Linked DNA regions of Homo sapiens: region 2 is linked to region 1. The links come from fine-mapping of genetic effects on gene expression. A gene starts in region 1. The other region holds a variant in brackets. All regions are shown on one strand. Distances are between the middles of the regions. Region 1 holds the start of ATP11C (ATPase phospholipid transporting 11C (ATP11C blood group)). Region 2 overlaps ATP11C (ATPase phospholipid transporting 11C (ATP11C blood group)).

Region 1 (5,375 bases):
ATACTTGAGTTGTTCGGTTTCAAATGTTCAAATCCTTAAAAAAAAAAAAAAAGGATTTCAACAACTTAAGTTTAATGATTTTATTATGATTCAGAGCCCAGTTGTTTTCCACCATAAGAGTGCCACGTGAAAAGATTATCCTTTTCCTAAATACAATTAGCTTTCATTGCCACCTTTCCCTTTTTGTCACCCCCACGCAACACTCCAAGATCACAAGAATCTATGTGAAACAGCTATTAAGAACAATACCCGCTTGCATTCTCAGGCTAAATGTGAGAAACCAATTTTAGTCACTTGCTTCAGCAAAGCTATCAGTACAAGCCATCACCTACGGATTTCAAGATGATTGATATGTACAACCTCTACTGCTCTATGCCACAGGTAATAATCTGTTCCAATTTCATACTGCATGTTCCTGGGTGGGGTCAACATTTAGAAAACCATTAACACAGCACTATTCTAAAAAGGGATGTGCAAGTATTACTTTTAGCCAGTGTACACTTGTGAAAGTTTCAAATGAAGGAAAAATGAGAGCAAATATATCCGATGTATGAAAAATGTTAGCAACGTTTTGATTAGGAATAATTGCATGAATAAAACCAAATCGACATGTTCTCAAAAGATATATTTTAAGGCAGGTAGAGGAAAGCACTCAGCTTTCAACCCTTTTTCCTAACTACAGAAAAATCAAAATTTGCAGATGAACCCTTTCTTCCACATCATTGGCAGAAATAAAATCCTATTCCCGCCACCACCTCTTGCAATTAAGGAAGTTGCTACAAATAGCAGCACGGAACGTAAATGGTCCTGTTTCGCTCCATTCTTAATGTACCCTCTAGGAGTAAACAGGTTACTCAAAAAAGTCAGTAGCCAGAAAGCGATTTTCCCTATGGCTAACTCCCATGAAAATGAAATTCCCTTTTCTGGGGATTCTGAAGGGGGTAAACGTGGACGGAGGAGTCCAGTCACAGTCCGCCTTCTCCCATGGGTTCAAGGTCTGGAGTGCTCAGTCCTCCGCGAGGCTTCAGACCAGAGATCGGCAGCACGGGCAGTGGCGGCGCAGCCTCCTCGCGGCTGCACATCCACCCGGCCCACCCTGACAATCACGCTCGCCTTTCAAACACCCTAAAGGTGAGCTTTGTAGGCTGGGTCTCCAAAGTTTGCCCGGCCTCCGGTCAGAAGCCGCCCGCTGGCTGAGCCCTAGGCAAGGCTGAGTCTTGCCCTAGTCTCCGGCTCCCTCAGCCCCCAGCTCTTCTTTTGGGCCACCGTGACAGGTCTAGGTTTACCTCCATGTGCTCGTGGCAGAGGAAACAAAAGAAAGCAACCTCCCTGAGAATAAAACGCCATCTTCGACTAATTGGCAAACTGAGGGGTCCCCGGGTCGGTCCCCCCACGAGTCCCCCCCACCACCCAGCCCGAAGGCGGCCCCCAGTTTCAGGCAGAGTTTGTAACAGCTCCGGGAAGCCCTGGTCGAATTGTCCTGGGGGCGAGGGTGGGATACCCCGAGAGCCCTACCTGCCTCCCCTCCCCGGCCGCCTGGGCACCGTGTTTCGGTGAAAAGGAAGAAGAGGGGTGGTGGTGTCTCCCAGAGACGTAACTGCCCCCTCAGAAAATTGTTGTGAGGGACCCGGCGAAGGGGCTGGCGAGCAAGCAAACCGGCACGCGCGGAGCCGCAGCGAGTGTACTTACAAAACGATTCAAGCTCCGGCGGAACATCGCGTCGAAGGCTGCCGGGCGCTGAGCTGGGCTCTACCGGGCTGTCTGGGAAGGCGCCGTCCACAAAACACACTGCGGCGTGGGCCGGCGGCGCCAAGCGGAGCAGCGAGGCGGGCGGCCGGGCCACCCGCTCGCCGCCTGCCCCCCTCGGCTCTCCGCGCTCCCCCGCCCCCCAGCCGCCCGCAGCCTAGCCGCCGCCCCGCCTCACTCGCGGCCCGCCCCCGGCCTGCCTGACCCGGGGGCGGCGGCCCCGCGGATCGCCCTTATCTGGCCCCGGCACCCCGGGCCGGCAGCTCGCGCAGCACCCACTGAGAAGGCGAGCCCGCCGCGCGGGGGAAGGATGGCGGAGGAGCGCGAGGCTCCTCCTGTGGGGAGGGGGCGCCCCCGTCTCTCCGCCAGCGCCGGGCTCGGCACCCCGCGGGATGCGCTCTTCCCCGACGCGGCACCACCGCCCGCCTCCCCGCTGGACTCCGCGGCCGCCCCCCTCGGGGCACGGGGAACCCTCCCGAGGCACCCCGCGCCTCACCTCGCCTCAGCCCGACACTACTCCCCTGTCTCTGTCGGGAGCCACAGCCTCCCTCGCCCCGGCCCTAACTCGTCCGCCGTGCCGCGCCGCGCCGTTTCGCTCGCAGCCCCTCCTCGGTCCGCGGCTGCCGCGCCGCCCCGCGCTCTGGTCCCGCACTCGGGCCAGGGAGCCTGGGTACAGCCAACCGGCCCGCCCTGAGCCAGCCGACGGCCAGACTCCCTCTTCCGGGCGTGGTGGAGCCGGGCTCTGAGGCAGGGCACCGTGAAGACCCCAGCGCGGGAGGGGCGGGGCGGGGTGCGAGGGGGGACTAGTTCTGAAAGCCCACCCTCCTCATCTGCACCGACGAGGGTTCCCCCTCGACCCTCGCGCCGCTGTACTCCCACCTACGCGGCTTTCCCTCCTCTCAGTCTTTCTCTCGTCCTGCCTGCCCACCTAAGCCTTCTTACTTCCACTTTCTCTGAGGTTGTAAAGTCAGGCTTTGTGTCGTTGCTGCTGCGCAGCGGGGCGGGATTTCCCTGACCCCCACCCCGCCCCACCCAGGCCCCTCCCGCTCGCCCCCTCCCCCTCCTTGCTCCCGGGGCAGCCTGGGAGTTGTAGTCCAACCGTCCCCCTACTTCGCCTGGTACCGCGGGCTGGGAGCTCCCCCACACGCTAGTCCCGGGTTTGCCCAGAGGGTTGAAGAAGGAAGCGCGGGCTGAACAGCGGGTTCTCCACGCCGGCCGGCTGGGTGTGGAGGCCGGGCGCACTCGGTAGCCTTCCTAGCGGTGGGACATGTGAGAAGGCTAAATTAGGCAAAGCTCCGAATCCTGGGAGCTTTCCCTGGAACGCAAAATGTGCGCATCAGGAAACCCTCTACACCCTCGGCCCCCAGCTTAGAGCTGGAATTTGCGAAACTTTAAAAATTACAAAAGAAAAGCGAGTCCAGAATTGCCACGAGGCTGGGCATCCCTCCCAACTACCACAACCCCACCCCTTTTCACCGCCCCTTAAGGCGGGGCCCAAGGCTGTTGGAGAAGAACTTGCAGATTCTTCTATAAAAGTCAAAAAGAAGGAAAGGGAGTTCAGAGACTCTTACACGAGTCTTCCGCCTCGCCGCGTTCTCCTGCCAGTTTAGAGCTGGGGACAGGGCCCAGCCACACCACAGGCCTTCCCAAAGGTCGCGAATAGGCCTTTACTACTAGGCATAGGCGCTTCTCCTTTACCCTCCGGAGTTCGGATTCATTTCAACAAACCTTTGCTGGGAATTTTCTTTGTACCAGGCACTGTGCCAGGGCTGGACACAGCGATTTCTTAAAAGACCTCCCCAACAGGGTGGTCGCAATCTGGTTGGGGGATACAAACAAGCGAAAATGCCACGTTAGAATTTAATAATAGCTAGAGTTCAAAGTGCTAGAGAAATAGGGGAGAGCGACATTGCATCTGAAAATGGGGTTTGGGAAGTTTTCCTAAAAGCCCTGGAGATTAAACTAGCCCTTGAAACGTGGGAAGGCTTTAGAGGGACCTGACTGAGCCCAAGGGGACAAAGTCCAGGGTAGAGGGAGAGGTCGGTGAAAAAGCGCAGGACAAACTAAGAAAGAGATCACGCTGTAGTGGCAGACGCCCAGGACGTGTAGGTAAGGGCGGCTCGAACGAAAGCTAAAATCTAAAACTCTTCAAAAACATGTTACGAAGTTTGAACTTCATTCTGCGATCAACGAGAAGCCCATCTCCCAATAAAATGCAAATGCAGGAGACCTAAGGTTTGTTCCCAAACTGTCCTAACTGCCAAGAAGTAAAACCAACCGTTTTCAATTCTTCCCCTCTTATGATTCCTTCTCTGCTCACAGTTGAGCCTGTATCTAATGATTTTTAAGATTTATGTTAAATTTATATTTATATTAATCAGATATTATGATATTTTATTGACAAAAGAGATCTAAAGTTTTGCTCTCTACTGCTTTAAAGATTTTCAAATAGAGTTATTTTCTAGCTTTCTAGCTTTACCTTTTTTTTTTTTTTTTTTTTGAGACAGTCTCACTCTGTCACCCAGGCTGGAGTGCAGTGGCGCGATCTTGGCTCACTGCAGCCTCTGCCTCCTGGGTTCAAGTGATTCTCGTGCCTCAGCCTCCCAAGTAGCTGGGATTACAGATGCCTGCCACCACACCCGGCTAATTTTTGTATTTTTAGTAGAGACGGGGTTTCACCATCTTGCCCAGGTCTCGATCTCCTGACCTCAGGTGATCCACCCGCCTCGGCCTCCCAAAGTGCTAGGATTACAGGCGTGAGCCACCATGCCCGGCCTCTAGCTTTACTTTTATTGAACACAGCAAATACTGTAATTTCTTCACTAGTTTATTTGTTGAACGACTGCTATGTGGCAGACATTATTCTAGATACTGGAATTGGGAGGTGGAGGAGGTTATTGTCTTTAGTTCTAGGTATAAGTCTAGAATTCTTACCAAAATACATCCTTATCAATAAAATAATAAACTAATTTAGACATTTGGGGATACAAGTGCTTGCTAGTGAATAGTAAATAATATCGTTCCAAATTCAATTCTGTTAAACAAGTGGAAAAAATGTACTTTGCTTATAGATTCAAACAGATCAACTTTAAAAAATATTAGAGACCTGAAATTTTTTTTTGTTTGCATTATGCTCTCATACATACCCATTGTCATGTTACTGCAGCCTAATCACAGGAATTTTAAGATTCCTCAAGATATAGCAGTATTGGGCCAGGCGCGGTGGCTCACACCTGTAATCCCAGCACTTTGGGAGGCCAAGGTGAGTGGATCACCTGAGGTCAGGAGTTCGAGACCAGCCTGGGCAACATGGTGAAACCCTGTATCTACTGAAAATACAAAAATTATCCAGGTGTGGTGGCGGATGCCTGTAGTCCCAGCTACTCAGGAGGCTAAGACAGGACAATTGAATCGCTTGAACCTGGGAGGTGTAGGTTGCAGTGAGCCGAGATCGCACCACTGCACTCCAGCCTGGGTGACAAGAGCAAAACTCCATCCCCACCCCCCAAAAAAGATATAGCAGTATTGTTGATTTTTATTTGTTATAATTCTGCTATTTATTCTCTCAATTTATTTCAATACGCCACCTATACTCATGGGTCCAGTCTAATTTGCTCAACTATAAAAAT
Region 2 (5,375 bases), 89 kb before region 1:
ATATTATTTATTTATACAGATATTTGACATAACAATTAGTAATGAAGCCCACACAAAGTGCTCACTAATAAATGAGTAAATAACAGCATGTAATCAACGGCACTATTTGTTGGGTCATAGTCTCTACAACACTACTGGGCAATCAACTCTAAACCTAGATACTCTACTACAATTAGACAACAAGACTTGTTTCAGTAGTTTTCATCCACACACTTGAATTTTTATAAATACAAAATACTAGTTAATGAACTGTGTCTAAACCTTTCTAAGACCAAAGAATTGTTTCTACAAAGGGTGAGGTGGAGTAGAGAAGGAGAACTGCAGGTTGAAATGATTGGTGGTACAAGGGCTTGGAGAAGAAAGCTATTTGTTCAAATGAAACTCCAAATGAGAATATTAAAATTCAACATTCAAGAGCTGCAGAGAGGTAAGGAAAACTCTCCTTTCATTGATGTTCAAAAGACAAGAGAGAAAATTTTCTCCTATCAGCTTTTGCCATCCCCATGCTGAGACTACAGTGAATCTTGTGTAGAAGAACAACTAGAACACCTAAGTGGTATATTTCAATCACAAAAATTGCCACTTATGAAATTTTCTGGTACCTTGGGATGGAAAAGGCAATAAACAATAAAGTTTTTAAAACATTATACATACATACACATATATACACACTCCATCTTGCTCTGGAGCTCAGAAACAATGGAACCTAGTAAGGTGATTTTTTTAAGTGATTTCCCTAAGGAAAGTTATTTCTTCCTCGTTCCCCTAGCTATTTTCCTGGGACTAGGACCTTATCAGGTTATAACTCAAAGACAGGCCCATTGCTATCCAAGGCTCCACTTATCTTGCCTTGCATTGCCCTGCCCAGAATGCATGAGCAGGTTTTTTTGTTTTGTTTTGTTTTGCTTTTTTGAGACAGTCTCCTTCTGTCGCCCAGGCTGGAGTGCAGTGGTGCAATCTCGGCTCACTGCAAGCTCCGCCTTCCAGGCTCACGCCATTCTCCTGCCTCAGCCTCCCAAGTAGCTGGGACTACAGGCACCCGCCACCACACGCACCTAATTTGTTTGTATTTTTAGTAGAGGCAGGGTTTCACCGTGTTAGCCAGGATGGTCTCGATCTCCTGACCTCATGATCTGCCCACCTCAGCCTCCCAAAGTGAGCAGGTTTTAAATTCCATACATGCCCTCCAAGGGTACCAATCTTCCTCCTGCCATGTGCCATAGAGTAACTCTCCCCCTTTTCTTCCACTCTTTCACCTTTTGCCATTGTGAAAAGTATCAGCTGGGTAGTAGGTACAGGCTGAGGCGAAGCCCAATCACTTCTCTCCTTTTGCTTGCATTCTACCTCTCACTGACCTCTGAGCTAGGGCTGTATCAATTCCTGCAATAGGCAAGTTTACAATCTCATAGAGTTGACAGGAAACACAAGTAGGACATAAGTGAAGGAAGTATACAAGTATATTTGCAGCGCACTGCTAAGTAAATACAGAAGAAAGGAATAAGAGTTGCTGAAATGTAGAGGCTGACTGGGGCTGCGTAGAGTTTGTCTTAAATTTCCAAGAGATTAATGTGTCTGAGCGTTGGGTAATTTTGGCCTCTTGTGATCTAGAATACGATCAAATTAGTTTGAAAATCTTTGTATAATTCACACGTGCCAGGCTCCAAAGCTAGAGTCTGCATACAATGACAAGAGAATTTTATTTTCAGTTGTATACTGTGCTTGGTTTCAGAGCTACTCTAACAAACCTTACTTTCCCTTGCCATTCTAACTTCATTTTCCACTAGTAGTCTCCAGCAAGAATGCTCTGCTGTCATCAAATTCAACTCCCACCTCATTTTCTCGCCAAGTATCTCAGTTTATTCCCAACTGCTGTTCTCTTGGACTGGAATTGTCTGCATGACTCTCCTTGAAAGTAAACTGAAAGTTCAACTAATGCCAAATTCAGCAGCTTAATTAAGAGTCCCTGTAACATATGGAAGGCTGCAGATACATAAAATTGGCGAACCCTTACAAACTGGCTTCCCCTCAAGGTGATCAGCCAGTGATTCTTGAAGCTGTGTCTTATTCTCTTAGGATACAACAGGACTTCTTCTGCAGTAAGGATAAGTAACACCTAAGTGTCTGTTACGTGCAGATGAAGAATTCTATAGATGGACAGATGGAAAGATGGATGGATGGAAGAATTACAAACAGATATGGCTCACTCATTTGATTAAACAGGCCTAGCCCCAAAATCAGAGTATCATTTAGAGTCATTTGAGATCACCAAGGGTCATCAAGTTATGTATGACCAGAGATGAAAATATAGTATAAACAAGGTTGGAGCCTCAATGTTTAACTGTCTCATGAATATCTTCTGATGGGTATATTTTTGATGCTCAAAAATCAGAGGTACTCCAATATTTGCAATTTTAATGGCCTTTTTTCATAGAGCATGGCAATTACCAGGTTGTTTCAAAGAGCCTGTACAAGGGATGATGAAGAACAGAAGCATACTGGCTATGTGTATCAGTTCTACAGCCAGATATCTGGGTTCAAATATTGGTTCTGCCACTTATTAGTTATGTAACCTGGGGCAAGCTCCTTAACCATGTGATGTCTCAGTTTTCCCACCAGTCTCAAAGGGGGTGATTATGTTGATGACAACTTATAAAGCAATTATGAAACAGTGCCTTCATATTGTAAATACTGAAAAAAAATTGTTAGTTGTGTTATATAGCACAATGGAATAATAAATTCCTTTGCTGCCAATAACTAGTTGCTTCTGACAAAGAAAAAAAAAAAAAACTGATGTCCATGGAAAAAAATATAATTCTAATACAAATAGGTGAAATATATCTGCAGGGTTATTACACTTGAAACTCAGGGAGCACAAATGAAAGAAATTAACATTAACTTTGTTTAACTAAAAAACATATATACAGTCTTTGCGAAACAGAAACAGAGAGAAACCTTATAAAATCAAAATGACCATGAATAGTTTTGTAAATGAACTATGCCACGCTAACTAGATAACACTTCTTAATTAGCATATGAACAAAAGACAGAATAGTACATTGTGACTTCATTCAAGACTTCAATAAAACAAAATGCTTGCAAAAAGGAAAGAAAAATCAGCTTCAAAAGGTTCAGCAAAGGTTATGATAAATGACTCAGTTTAGGGTTGAATGCAAGGAGTAGCAGAGAGTGGAGGGCTCTGGGTAAGCACTAGACTGGAAGCAAAAATAAACAGCATGTGTAATCAAATTCACCCAACTGTGTCATACCACGTGGCCCTGCAATACCTGCAATGCAGGAAAGGCCTGGTGCCGAG[TAAG/T]AAGAAAGCACATATGCAGGGCAAGCAGTGGGAAGAAACCTTCCATACTGCCCTGGTAGCACCCTAACTAAAGAGGAGAAGATGGTCAGAGCAGCTAACAGCTCTGAACAAGAAGGGGGCCACAGATTTAGAATTGCAAATGGTTGGCCTCAGACATTCACCTTCTCCTATCATTCTTTCCAAATCAAATCAATAATCTGTGTGTGTGTAGGGGCCTGTGTATTTGTGAGATCCCCTAATCCAAAGGCCTATCCCATTTTATTGAAACAAATATTTAAAGAACATGGAATGAGCTAGACACAGTGATAAGCATAATCCCCATGCTAAATTAGGAAGCTTATCTTACCAGAAAGCCAACTCTATCTCAGTTCCCCCTCTCTGAGTCTGTTTTCCCATTCATAAAGTGTGGGAGTTGAATAAAAAGGTTCCTGTGGTTATCTAATATTGCACAGATTTACCAAAAATTTGTCAAGTTAGCACCCTGAAGATGGAATGTTCAAAACGATAAAATGAGCATAAGCAGGTATTTACTTAAAAGAATGACAGATGATTAAGTGGTTAAGGGGTTGTGAGCAACATTAGGTCCTGGTGGACACACTTGTTTGCCTCTCAGTTTCTCTAGTGCACCTCACCTCCCCAGGGGCTGGACCCAACATTTCCTCCCATCACCGATAAGCCTCAGGCCCAAGGGACCCTGTCTCTTTCTTTAGGGGGTTCATAGCCTCCAGTCAGCTCAAAACAGGCTTCCAGCTAGTGCCCTAGCACTAGCTTGCCTTACTAGAATGCCAGCTCCCTAAGCAGCAGTGGCTCTGTGTTTGATTTAGTGACCAGAGGGCAACGTGGAACAGAACTAAATTAGGAACCCCTACAGAGATTTGCTTTAAAAAACTAGAGAAACCACCACAAATGTTTCTGCTTTTTCATTAATGCATTTATTAACAATAAATGTTTAAAGCAATTTATTTTTATCAGGAGAAGTCAGGGATTTTTGAGAGAAAAGTAAAGGGGAATATATGTAGGGAGTGAAGCAGTGAGAGAAGTCTGAATATATAGTTCAATTATTCCAGTGAGTAGAGGAAATGGAGACCTTGATGTGCTTCATACTAAGTATAAACTACATTAATTAGAGCTTTTAAACATTGAACAATTAAGTTTACATCAATCAAGTTTATACATAAAATACTCTTAAAGGCAACAACACTTTAATTTTTACTGTATTCATCTTTATCAACTACTGTCTTTATTCATAATTCCCTCTATTTAAAGCCCAAAGCTTTCCCAAACTACTGTTCTTGGCAAAAGAACTCTCGCTAATTTTCTGCAATTCTCATTATCCATCATTCTTACAGCTAAAACCTTTAAATCTTTGGAATCACTTTTAAAACACGCTTATGCTTGCCAAATACTGTCCCATTCTTTTTAAATATGCTTGAATAGATTTGCTTTGGGAATAATTACGTTTAAGAAACTGCCAAAGCAACAGGGAAGTTGTACACCACTATAGAGATCGCTCAGATTGTTGTGTGGGGATCTCTGTCACATAAACTTCATTATGGATCTTCGGGTTTCACTATGATCATCCAAAAATAAGTCTGACTTATACGTTCATATTTAAAAGAAAAGTTGCAATAAAGGGCCATGCAATGCTTGACCTTGAGAAACAGTGCCTCTTGTATGAATCCAGGTAACCTCTGGCTATTAATCGGTATGTTATATAACAAACCGGAATAAGCTTTGCTAAGGAGCTTCAATTTTACTAATGTCCAGTTGTTTCCAACCTGGTGAACACTAGATTTCCTTCCTAAATTATTTTTACCCAAAAGAATTCTTAAACAGCTAAATTATAAGACTTTGTGGTATCAGTGGCTATAAATCTCAGTAAGGACCACCTCTGGACTTAATTTAGAGAAATGGAGTATATCTGATAACTAGGAATAAAGAGCTAATCAAAACTGGCTTTGTAAATGTTAAAGTAAGGTTGGGTTAGCAATTGTCCATAGCATTAAGTATGCAATCCATTGTGTAACTCCTAAGGTTTACTTTACTTTTGCTGCTATTT

What was found. PIP is the estimated chance that this variant, and not a neighbour inherited with it, causes the effect.
Region 2: its variant is the best candidate, but not a certain one, in a credible set for the expression of ATP11C in whole blood (TOPMed, PIP 0.57).

The regions. Positions count from the first base shown.
Region 1 is chrX:139,930,327-139,935,701 of GRCh38, forward strand. It overlaps ATP11C (ATPase phospholipid transporting 11C (ATP11C blood group)), which reads right to left and starts at 2,727. Exons shown (of 30, transcript NM_001353812.2): 1 at 1,690-2,727. The coding sequence starts at 1,716. RefSeq lists silencers at 1,754-1,913, 1,954-2,193 and enhancers at 2,974-3,323, 3,364-3,413.
Region 2 is chrX:139,841,140-139,846,514 of GRCh38, forward strand. The region is part of intron 1 of ATP11C (ATPase phospholipid transporting 11C (ATP11C blood group)); the gene reads right to left. Among named protein-coding and RNA genes, the nearest start is that of MIR505, 80 kb to the right of the region's middle. The variant TAAG/T (reference allele first, on the strand shown) is at 3,314.